3 linked regions of the Homo sapiens genome follow. The protein of the gene in region 2 interacts with the protein of the main gene of each other region in a pairwise test. Each region holds a gene or a part of one and is shown on either strand. Other genes may lie near its edges.

The links. The genes of interacting proteins can lie anywhere in the genome.
Region 1: the proteins of CD4 (region 2) and ABCB1 interact in a two-hybrid assay, tested with the Homo sapiens proteins (one large-scale study listed by BioGRID and IntAct).
Region 3: the proteins of CD4 (region 2) and UBL7 interact in a two-hybrid assay, tested with the Homo sapiens proteins (one large-scale study listed by BioGRID and IntAct).

What each region holds. Positions count from the first base shown.
Region 1 is NC_000007.14:87,548,710-87,552,451, reverse strand, and holds part of ABCB1 (ATP-dependent translocase ABCB1), read left to right. Parts: intron 1-1,613; coding exon 1,614-1,727; intron 1,728-1,873; coding exon 1,874-1,984; intron 1,985-2,155; coding exon 2,156-2,281; intron 2,282-2,397; coding exon 2,398-2,601; intron 2,602-2,933; coding exon 2,934-3,104; intron 3,105-3,742. UniProt on the Homo sapiens protein: Translocates drugs and phospholipids across the membrane. Catalyzes the flop of phospholipids from the cytoplasmic to the exoplasmic leaflet of the apical membrane.
Region 2 is NC_000012.12:6,795,789-6,799,530, forward strand, and holds part of CD4 (T-cell surface glycoprotein CD4 isoform 1 precursor), read left to right. Parts: intron 1-3,742. UniProt on the Homo sapiens protein: Integral membrane glycoprotein that plays an essential role in the immune response and serves multiple functions in responses against both external and internal offenses.
Region 3 is NC_000015.10:74,448,144-74,451,227, reverse strand, and holds part of UBL7 (ubiquitin-like protein 7), read left to right. Parts: intron 1-368; coding exon 369-426; intron 427-1,158; coding exon 1,159-1,292; intron 1,293-1,552; coding exon 1,553-1,602; intron 1,603-1,874; coding exon 1,875-2,042; intron 2,043-2,627; coding exon 2,628-2,750; intron 2,751-3,084.

The DNA.
Region 1 (3,742 bases), on a different chromosome or scaffold from region 2:
TGTATGATTTAGGGCAGCCAGCTAAACTTTTCAAGCCTCTGCTACCTCTTCTGCCAAATGATATGACAGGAATGAACCCTAACTTTCAGCGTGTTTTGAGGACTAACTGAGATAATGAATATAGAATCACTTAGCAAAGTTCCTTCTGTGTAAATTATTGAGCAATATAATTCCATGTGATTTAGAAAAAATGAATAATGACATTAATTCTCATCAACCCCAAAGAGAAACACAGTTAAGTCTTTACCAATAAGAAACTGATTTGCACAAAACAAAAAAACAAAAGGCCTAAAGAGAACACGGCCTTGTGGCAAAAAAGACAACCTGATAAAGGATCAGTGTCTTAGGTGTGTGTGCTTTATAATTAACAAAAAATGTTCATATACACTGTTTTATCATGATACAACATCTCTATGATTGCTGGGTAGGGAGAACAGATAGAATCTTGCCTGTTTTTGCCAATGAAGAAATTGAAGCCAAAGATTCTAAGAGAATGGCCTAACAACATATAACTAGTTATTACTAATTTAGGATTCAGAACTGGGTCTTCTGACTCCTCTGCTAGCATTTATTTCCACTTTACCTTACTGATGATCTAAATAAAAAAAAAACTAGACATTGAAGAAATATAAAAATATCCTATTATAATATTCTAGCCCTGTGAAATTTAAATCATTGTTTATTGAGCAAGTAAGACTAATTCTGCATTCTAAATTGAAAAGTATTTATATTTCCAAAATATTTTTAGTATGGGCAACATAGTGAGATCTCATCTCTATAATTTTTTTTTTTAATTAGCCAGATATGGTGGCACTTGTCTGTAGTCCCAGCTACTTCGGAGACTGAGGTGAGAGGGTTGTCTGAACCCAGAGGTTGAAGTTGCAGTGAGCCAAGATTGCACCACTGCAGTCCAGGCTGGGCAACAAAGCAAGACCTTGTCTTAAAATTTTTTTAAAAAAATTTTATGCTATTTTTAATTGACAAATCATAATTGCATTACACTTACGGAATACAATGTGATGTTTATGTATACACACACATACACACAAAATGTGGAGTGATCAGAGCAAGCTAATTAACATATCTATCTCCTCACTTGACACCTTTTGAGGTGACACATTTGAAATTTACTCTTGGCTGGGTGTGGTGGCCCATGCCTGTGATCCCAGCACTTTTGCAGGCTGAGGCAGGAGGATTGCTTGAGGCCAGGAGACCAGGCTGGGACACGTAGCGAGACCCTGTCTCTAGAAAAAATAAAAAAAATTAGTCAGGTGTGATGGTGCATGCTTGTAGTCCTAGCTACTTGGGAGACTGAGGCAGGAGGATTGCTTGAGCCCAGGAGGTAGAGGTTATGACGAGCTATGATTGCACCACTGCACTCCATCCTGGGTGACAGAATGAGAACCTGTCTCTTAAAAAGGAAAAAAAATGAAAAAAGGAATTAAATGTACTGTTAGTTACAAACTTTTAAAATATTTTTAACACCTAGTATTTATATGTTGCCTCGCCATTTTAAATTTTAATTACCTATGTTAGAAAAAGACAGAAGAAGTATGAAAAAAAATTGCTGTCACTATCTCAGTAGCCTGATGGTTTTTCTTCACATTCCTCAGGTATTCTTTTCTGTATTAATTGGGGCTTTTAGTGTTGGACAGGCATCTCCAAGCATTGAAGCATTTGCAAATGCAAGAGGAGCAGCTTATGAAATCTTCAAGATAATTGATAATGTAAGTCTGAGTTGGCCATCTATCCACCTATCTAAAAGATTGTCCAGTTAAGTCAATTTCTTTGTCACTTTATCCAGCTCTCCACAAAATATCACTAAAAGTAGTTATTGTAACCTAGTAATCTCTTAAAATTTGATTCTGTTTAGAAGCCAAGTATTGACAGCTATTCGAAGAGTGGGCACAAACCAGATAATATTAAGGGAAATTTGGAATTCAGAAATGTTCACTTCAGTTACCCATCTCGAAAAGAAGTTAAGGTACAGTGATAAATGATTAATCAACAATTAATCTATTGAATGAAGAGTTTCTGATGTTTTCTTGTAGAGATTATAAAAAAGTGCATGTATATTTAAACCTAGTGAACAGTCAGTTCCTATATCCTGTGTCTGTGAATTGCCTTGAAGTTTTTTTCTCACTCGTCCTGGTAGATCTTGAAGGGTCTGAACCTGAAGGTGCAGAGTGGGCAGACGGTGGCCCTGGTTGGAAACAGTGGCTGTGGGAAGAGCACAACAGTCCAGCTGATGCAGAGGCTCTATGACCCCACAGAGGGGATGGTGAGATGACCCATGCGAGCTAGACCCTGCGGTGATCAGCAGTCACATTGCACATCTTTCTGATGTTGCCCTTTCAATTACAAATGTATGAAAGTCACACTTACTTTTTATTCCAGGTCAGTGTTGATGGACAGGATATTAGGACCATAAATGTAAGGTTTCTACGGGAAATCATTGGTGTGGTGAGTCAGGAACCTGTATTGTTTGCCACCACGATAGCTGAAAACATTCGCTATGGCCGTGAAAATGTCACCATGGATGAGATTGAGAAAGCTGTCAAGGAAGCCAATGCCTATGACTTTATCATGAAACTGCCTCATGTAAGTTGTCCTTGCCCTTTGCCTTTCTAGAGGTGCAAAAAATAAAATGCAGGCCTACTATGCAGGAAGTTAGGAAACTACTATAAATCGGAAGAAGGGAAATCCTAAGAAGGGAAAGTAAGATTACTTCAGATTTGAAAGCTCTAGCAGTATCAACTGGTCGTAGATACATTTTTAAAAACTGAGGTTGGTTATTGTGTTAAATAAGATTTAAAGAACTGGACCTGTATTACTTGTGAGACTTGGGCTGTGTATAGGATTCCTTACCAATTTAAAATATGAGCTGAGATAGCTTGTCCTTATGCTAAATCATTCTGGGTTTTCTGTGGTAGAAATTTGACACCCTGGTTGGAGAGAGAGGGGCCCAGTTGAGTGGTGGGCAGAAGCAGAGGATCGCCATTGCACGTGCCCTGGTTCGCAACCCCAAGATCCTCCTGCTGGATGAGGCCACGTCAGCCTTGGACACAGAAAGCGAAGCAGTGGTTCAGGTGGCTCTGGATAAGGTCAGTGAGGCTTAGTTCAAACCAACCTGATTTATAAGCATAAGAACATTCTACTACTAATTCTTGTTAATATTGGTCTTAGAAAAGGAAATTTCTGATAGCTTCTAGGTGATTCCTTCAGCTATTAAAATAAAAGCATTGGGCCTCTTTGAAATCTTTTTCTATTTGTTTGTTTTATTGTTCAATTTCTATTTATTTCTCTGATCTTATTTTAAATGTTGATGAATACATTTTCATTTGAAGACACTTGCTAATCTTTTAAATTAAAAAATAGAAATATAGACACATGTGAAAGTTCATCTTCATTGTGATCTTCAAAACTTGACTATGTGGATAACCCTGTTATTTAGGTTTTGAGAGTTTGTAATATTGCCAAGAAGAGAAAAATACAACCTGAAGGTCCATATATAATTTTCCAGGTGTTGAATGCCACTTGAAGACTCTATGCGAAATAAGAAACCTCTTATTTCCAGGAAAGGGGCAGATAGCCTGTGATACTGAAAACCTACCTAAGCCATGACAGGTTATTGACTATCAACAGAGTTTGACTGTCCTGCAATTCTGGAGTCCATATGACTCATTCACCAAATAGCATTTGAGTGTTTGCCGTGTGCCGGGCACTGTGCCTTTGATCTCCA
Region 2 (3,742 bases):
AGCTTCTTTCCCCCACCCTTCCATCTCATCTCTGAAAGGCACTTCCCACTGGCCAGCCCCGACTGGTGCTGGAGGGCAAGAGAGCCTATGAGCCATGTGTGGCTGTCAGCCCCTTGGTGGAGAGCCACAGACAGGATGGAGAGTGGCTGGCAGGGCCCCGTGGGGATGAACAGCTTGGATTGGGGCGACTGGGCTTCATCCAGGCTGGGCTGGATGTGTGCATACATTTCAGTGACCCGTTTTAGAAACAGAATTAATATGGTGAATAGAGAAAGAAGAAATCAGTGACTTTCGCTCCTCCATACAATTCAATTTGGCTTAAGTTAGCCAAAGCCATACCAAGTCCTCTCTCTATGTCTCAGCTGCTGCCAGGCTTGTGGTGGCCACACAGCTGGCTAGACTGTCATCTCTGTCCTCAAGGGGCTCAAGCTAGAGGAGGAGAGTTGAGAAACCAAATCACTATACACAAAGTAGAAGGTGGAACACACCCAGGAGCATGTCAACGGGGTGCTGTGGGACTTCAGAGTAGGCAGATCGTCACCAAGCTTCAACGGCAAAGATGCCACTGGGGGAAAGAAGGACCAAGCTTGGAAGACAGAGTAAGTCTGGAGGCAAGATCTTGTCTCACCAGCAGGGGCCAGGTCCATGGTGACACCTTCCCCAGGCAGTCACCTCTCTGAGCCCACTTTATATCCTAGGCCTGGATTCAAAGACACTTGAGCCCTGCTCCAGCCTTCCTTTGAGGTGCTATCTTGGTGCCTTTCCTATAATCACTGCTCCAGTCCCATGTCATCTGGTCCCCAGTTACCACATCAAGCTTCCCGAAGCTCCACACAGACCATGCCACATCTTTACCAAAAAATCAGCAGTGGGTCCCCTCACCTCCAGGACAAAGCTCCAGCTCTTCGACCTGCCTGTCAATATTTGCAATCACTGCCTGCACAAATTAGCTGGGTGTTGTCATGAAAGGATCACTTGAGCCCAGGAGTTCCAGGCTGCAATGACCTATGATTGAACCACTGCACTCTGGCCTGGGTGACAGAGTGGATCTAAACTAAAAATAAAAAGATTTACAGTCAAGCCTCAAAGGCTTTTCCCATACCTTCTTCCACCATCACCTCCCTGAGCCCTCTCTTTCCTCCGAAGCCTCCTCGCACATCCCTACCACCTTTGCACACCTCAGAATGGGGACACCTCTCCCCTTTCCTCTCCATCTAACTTATGGTTTTCAAACTTGAGCGTGATCAGTTACCTGGAGATTTGTGAAAACCCAGATGACTAGACCCACCCCCAGTTTCTGATTCAGCAGGTCTGGGGTGGGGCCGAGGATCTGCATTTCTAACAAGTTCCCAGGTCATGTTGCCGCTGCTACTGATCCAGGACTTTGGGAATCGCTCCTCTAATCTACAGCTGTCCATTCCCCATGGTCCATTCAGAGCCTCTCTGCCCTGCCCCCACCACCCCCAGTCTCGCCTGTCTGCCAAGCGCACAGGAAACTCTCCTTCATCCAAACCCTGGACCAACGCCTTCTGCTTGGCCCACTCAGAGGCCTTGTAGGGTTGGTCTGATATTGGACAGAGAAATGGCCCTCTGCTCTTTCTCCCCTGACCTCTCTGAAGGGGGCCTGCCCCTCCACACCTGTGGGTATTTCTCGCAAGGTGGAGACAAGAGACTGAGAAAAGAAATAAGACACAGAGAAAGTATAGAGGAATAAAAGTGGGCCCAGGGGACCGGCGCTCAGCAAGTGAGGACCTGCACCGGTGCTGGTCTCTGAGTTCCCTCAGTATTTATTGATCACTATCTTTACTATCTCCGCGAGGGGAATGTGGTGGGGCTATAGGGTGAAGGTGAGGAGAGGGTCAGCAGAAAAACATATGAGCAAAGACTCTGTGTCATAAATAAGTTTAAGGAAAGGTGCTGTGCCTGGATGTGCTAGATTTATGTTTAACTTTACACAAACATCTCAGTGTAGTAAAGAGTAACAGAGCAGTATTGCCGCCATGATGTCTCGCCTCCAGACATAAGGCAGTTTTCTCCTCTCTCAAAATAGAATGTATGATCGGTTTTACACCGGGTCATTCCATTCCCAGGGACGAGCAGGAGACAGATGCCTTCCTCTTATCTCAACCGAATAGAGGCCTTCCTCCTTCACTAATCCTCCTCAGCACAGACCCTTTACGGGTGTCGGGCTGGGGGGCTGTAAGGTCTTTCCCTTCCCATGAGGCCATATCTCAGGCTGTCTCAGTGGGGGGAAACCTGGACAATACCTAGGCTTTCTCGGGCAGGGGTTCCTGCGGCCTTCCACAGTGTATTGTGTCTCTGGTTAATAGAGAACGGAGAATGGTGATGACTTTCACCAAGCACACTGCCTGCAAGAACTTTTCTTTTTTTTTTTTTTTGAGACAGAGTCTTGCTCTGTCGCCCAGGCTGGAGTGCAGTGGCGCGATCTCGGCTCACTGCCACCTCTGCCTCCCGGGTTCACGCCATTCTCCTGCCTCAGCCTCCCGAGTAGCTGGGACTACAGGCGCCCGCCACCACGCCCGGCTAATTTTTTTGTATTTTTTTAGTAGAGATGGGGTTTCACCGTGTTCACCAGGATGGTCTCGATCTCCTGACCTCATGATCCGCCCGCCTTGGCCTCCCAAAATGCTGGGATTACACGTGTGAGGCAAGAACTTTTTAAAAGTGCATCTTGCGCAGCCCTAGATCCATTAAACCTTGATTCAATACAGGACATGTTTTTGTGAGCACAGGGTTGGGACAAAAGTTACAGATTAACAGCATCTCAAAGCAGAACAATTTTTCTTAGTACAGATCAAAATGGAGTTTCTTATGTCTTCCTTTTTCTACATAGACACAGTAACAATCTGATCTCTCTTTCTTTTCCCCATACCTCTCACGCTGTATCAGGCCCCAATTCTTGGGAACGTCACCTTAGAACTGTCCCACACATTTCTACAGCCACTTGGCTCAGGCCCTTTGCTGACCAGGATGGTTGCAGTTCTGCCTTTGGTGCCTCGCCTCCTCCAGTTCTTTCACTCAGCAGCTGCAGGGGTCCACGTGGCAAATCTAATAATCTTCTTCTCTATAGAAAATCCTCTGCTGGCTCTCTAGTGCCCAGGATCCAGTCCCAGCATCTCAGCACGGCCTTCAAGCATTTCCACGTCCTGGCCTGGCTCCATGGTCTCCCCGCCAATTTGCCACCTTCTCCATGCATCCTTTTCTGATCCCCTCCTCACTCATCCCAGCAAAGAACCCCCTCCTGGCCTGAGCATAGCATTTCGTGGTGTGTATCTCAGAGCATCCAGTTAGGGGTGTGCAAGTTTACTTTGTTACTGGCTGATGTTGTGAAGTCCCAAGTTGTTGGTGCCGCAAACAAAAAATTGGACATGACACACACAAATAGCAAAGCAGCAAAAGTTTATTAAGCACAGTACGATCCACTATGGATCAAGGATGACCTGCGAATGGTATCAGCATCACTTTGCTATATTTCATGGCCTTTTCTATGTGTTTTTTTTCTCTTTTTCCTCAAGCTGCCTAAGCTTTAGCCAGCATGTGCCTTTTGGTTGACAGGTGGGTTGCTTAGTTTCTTGGCCTCTGTGTGTTTACGTGTCATTTCCTTCCCATAGTTTTAAGTACATGCATGATATGCACTCTGTAGGCATGAACCTTAAGTAGCTAATTACTATACGGGGTCATTTTGAGGATATCTTTTCTCTGTAGTACATGTGCATCTTTT
Region 3 (3,084 bases), on a different chromosome or scaffold from region 2:
ATAAGGGTATGAGGATGCCAAATGAGGATAGCAGTTAGCCCACATCACAGCAATCAGGGAAGGCGTCCTGCACACCCTGAGTAAGGGAAGAACCCAGAGATACGGGAGAAAGAGACAGGTGTCTTGGTACCCAGTCTGTGATGTGACTAAAGTGCAGGGGAGGTGGAGAGCAGGGGACCATCCTCACTAGACCAAGATGAGGAGTACCTGAATTGTATTGCTTGGCGCTTTGCTTCCTCTACTTCTCATGAAGATTGGCTTGTTGTCCTGTGTCCCTGTTGAGCTGGTTGCTCTGAGACGCAAAGCCTCTTCTCCCTCCTGGATCTGGCTGATTTCCTTTCTTTGAGGTGAGCTCTGCTCTTTTTCAGGGGTTCTCCAGGACAAGGACCTCTTCTCTGTCTTCGCTGATCCCAATATGCTTGATACGTAAGTGTACCTGTCCTATTAGAGGGTACCTTCTCTCTCCTCGTGCTCAGGCCAGAAGCCTAATTGTCACCCTGCAGTCTGCTCTGGGAGCCCATCCATAGTCTGTCACCAAGTCTACCCCTTAGATACGTCAGGGGGTGAGAAAGAGCAAAGCCCAAGAGCAGGGCTTTTGTCAAGAGTGCTGGGAGGAAGCAGGATTCTGAGGGAAAGGGTCTTGTCTGCCAGGCTCAGTTTAGGTTTCGTGTGGTAGAAATTAGGGAGCTTTTCAAGGATTTTAAGCTGGCAAAAGGAGAAGCAGGTGTACAGATCCGTAAAGTGTCAAAGCTAAAAGGGACATGTCCTCATTTTGCAAGTGAAGAAAACAGCCCCACCCTGGGAAGAGAAGGGACCAGTCCAGGGTTGCCTGATGTAGTAGTGGTGCCTAGACCAGACACTCCTCATGTGCTCAGGCCAGAACCCTGAGCCTCCCAGGCTGCACCTTTCCCATCATGCCTTGCCTGTGGAGAGGGTGAAGAATCTGCAGCGGACCCCAGGAATTTGAAGGCCTTGCACCCGTTGCTGGGGGCAGATCAGCAGGAGGATAAAGCTTCCTGGTGGAAGATGCTAAAGACTGAGGAATTTGAGAGCAGGCACAGGTGGCTGCATTGTTGTGAGGGGGCACCCAGAACTCCTGTTATGGCTGAGGGTGCTCTTTTGGAGTCACCCTTGGGTTTCTTCCTGCTTCTATCCTAGGTTGGTGCCTGCTCACCCAGCCCTCGTCAATGCCATTGTCCTGGTTCTGCACTCCGTAGCAGGCAGTGCCCCAATGCCTGGGACTGACTCCTCTTCCCGGAGCATGCCCTCCAGCTCATACCGGGATATGCCAGGTGAGCGCCTGAAAAGTGTAATGTGGGCCCCTCAGGAGCCGGCAGTGGCCCAGGAATTTGCTTTACTCAGCAGCTATGTATAGCGTTGGCAGAGGGCGTTCCTTGGGAACTCTCGGTTTGAGTCAGGAAGTGCATCTGTCCTGTAATTTTCCGAGGGGAGAGATGAAAATATGAATTTGGAGAGTAACTTGAGCTGAGATTCTGGAGCTGCGCCTGTGCCTTTCTGTTCTTCCTCCTGAAATCTGTTCGTCCTCCTCCAGGTGGCTTCCTGTTTGAAGGGCTCTCAGATGATGAGGATGACTTTCACCCAGTAAGTGGCCTGCCTGCCTGCCTGACATGCTGACATGTGGGGGAGATGGTGCTGGGAATGAGCTGCATCCTGGGACCTGGCACTCCCAAGGCTGGGAGATGGACATACGCCATTGGGGGGCCAAGACCATGTCATACTATTTCTGCTTTTGGATTCCTTTCTGAACCTGGGAACTTAAGAGTTTCCCCAAGAACTATTGCTGGAGGTGGGTGGAGTTCATCTGGGAGTTTCACAGTACTGCTTCCCTGATTCTGAGTGTCTTCTTTCTCCAGAACACCAGGTCCACACCCTCTAGCAGTACTCCCAGCTCCCGCCCAGCCTCCCTGGGGTACAGTGGAGCTGCTGGGCCCCGGCCCATCACCCAGAGTGAGCTGGCCACCGCCTTGGCCCTGGCCAGCACTCCGGAGAGCAGCTCTCACACACCGACTCCTGGCACCCAGGTATGAAGACGGGGCCGGGAAGATCAAGGCTGGGCCCCCAAGGAACAAGCTCCCCAGCAGTAGAGTAGATTTGCCTTTGCTGACCCTGGTGCTAGATCTAGTTTAAGCTGAACCCTGGAGTCCTGGTGGGGATTTCTTACTGCAGCTTGAGTGACCTCCCCTTCACTTGCCTTGAGGACTCAGAAGTCTAGATTTTAACATGGTCCCGTGTAGTCCCCCCTATTAGTTCAGAAGACTCTTCCTGCACACAATATGCCCTTCCTCATCCCTGACAGGGAGCAGACATCACCAGCTTAAGCATTTCTGGGTGACAAGTCACTTCAGCTTTCAAGGCCATCTCTCCCAGTGCTGCAGTGCTGGGGTCCTAGGCTGGGACAAGGGGCTCAGTGCAGAAGAGAATGGAACCTTTCCTGCCCACATAGAGAGCTTCTAGTTACCTTTGTTTGGTTGTCTTATGGCAGGTCTTTGTTGGGAGGCAGAAGTTGGGTACCTCAGGAGTGCTGTGAGGTGATATGACAACAGCGAGCATCTGCTATAAGATTGAGATGGCGCTGAGGGTGGCACTGACCACTAATTTGTCTCTAGGGTCATTCCTCAGGGACCTCACCAATGTCCTCTGGTGTCCAGTCAGGGACGCCCATCACCAATGATCTCTTCAGCCAAGCCCTACAGCATGCCCTTCAGGCCTCTGGGCAGCCCAGCCTTCAGGTCAGTCTTCCCCACGTCTTGGTTTCCATGTGGCTTCCTTGTTATTTTGGATGCCCAGCCTTTGTTTTGCTCTCTGGCGGTCCTTCACACCTGGCATGCTTCATTCTAGGAACAGCTGGAGCATGGCAGTGGGACAGGTGCAGAGTGTTCCTAGCAAGGGCACACTCTCAGACCATACACAGTGGTCACTAGGCTTCTCCTGCCCCTAGTGACCATGGCCTGACTCCCTAGACCACCTGGCTTAGATAATCATGGCCATTTCATTCATTCATTCAGTGATCATTGACTGAGCATGTGTATACTAGGCCTGAGTCCAGATGCTGGGCTAGTGGCA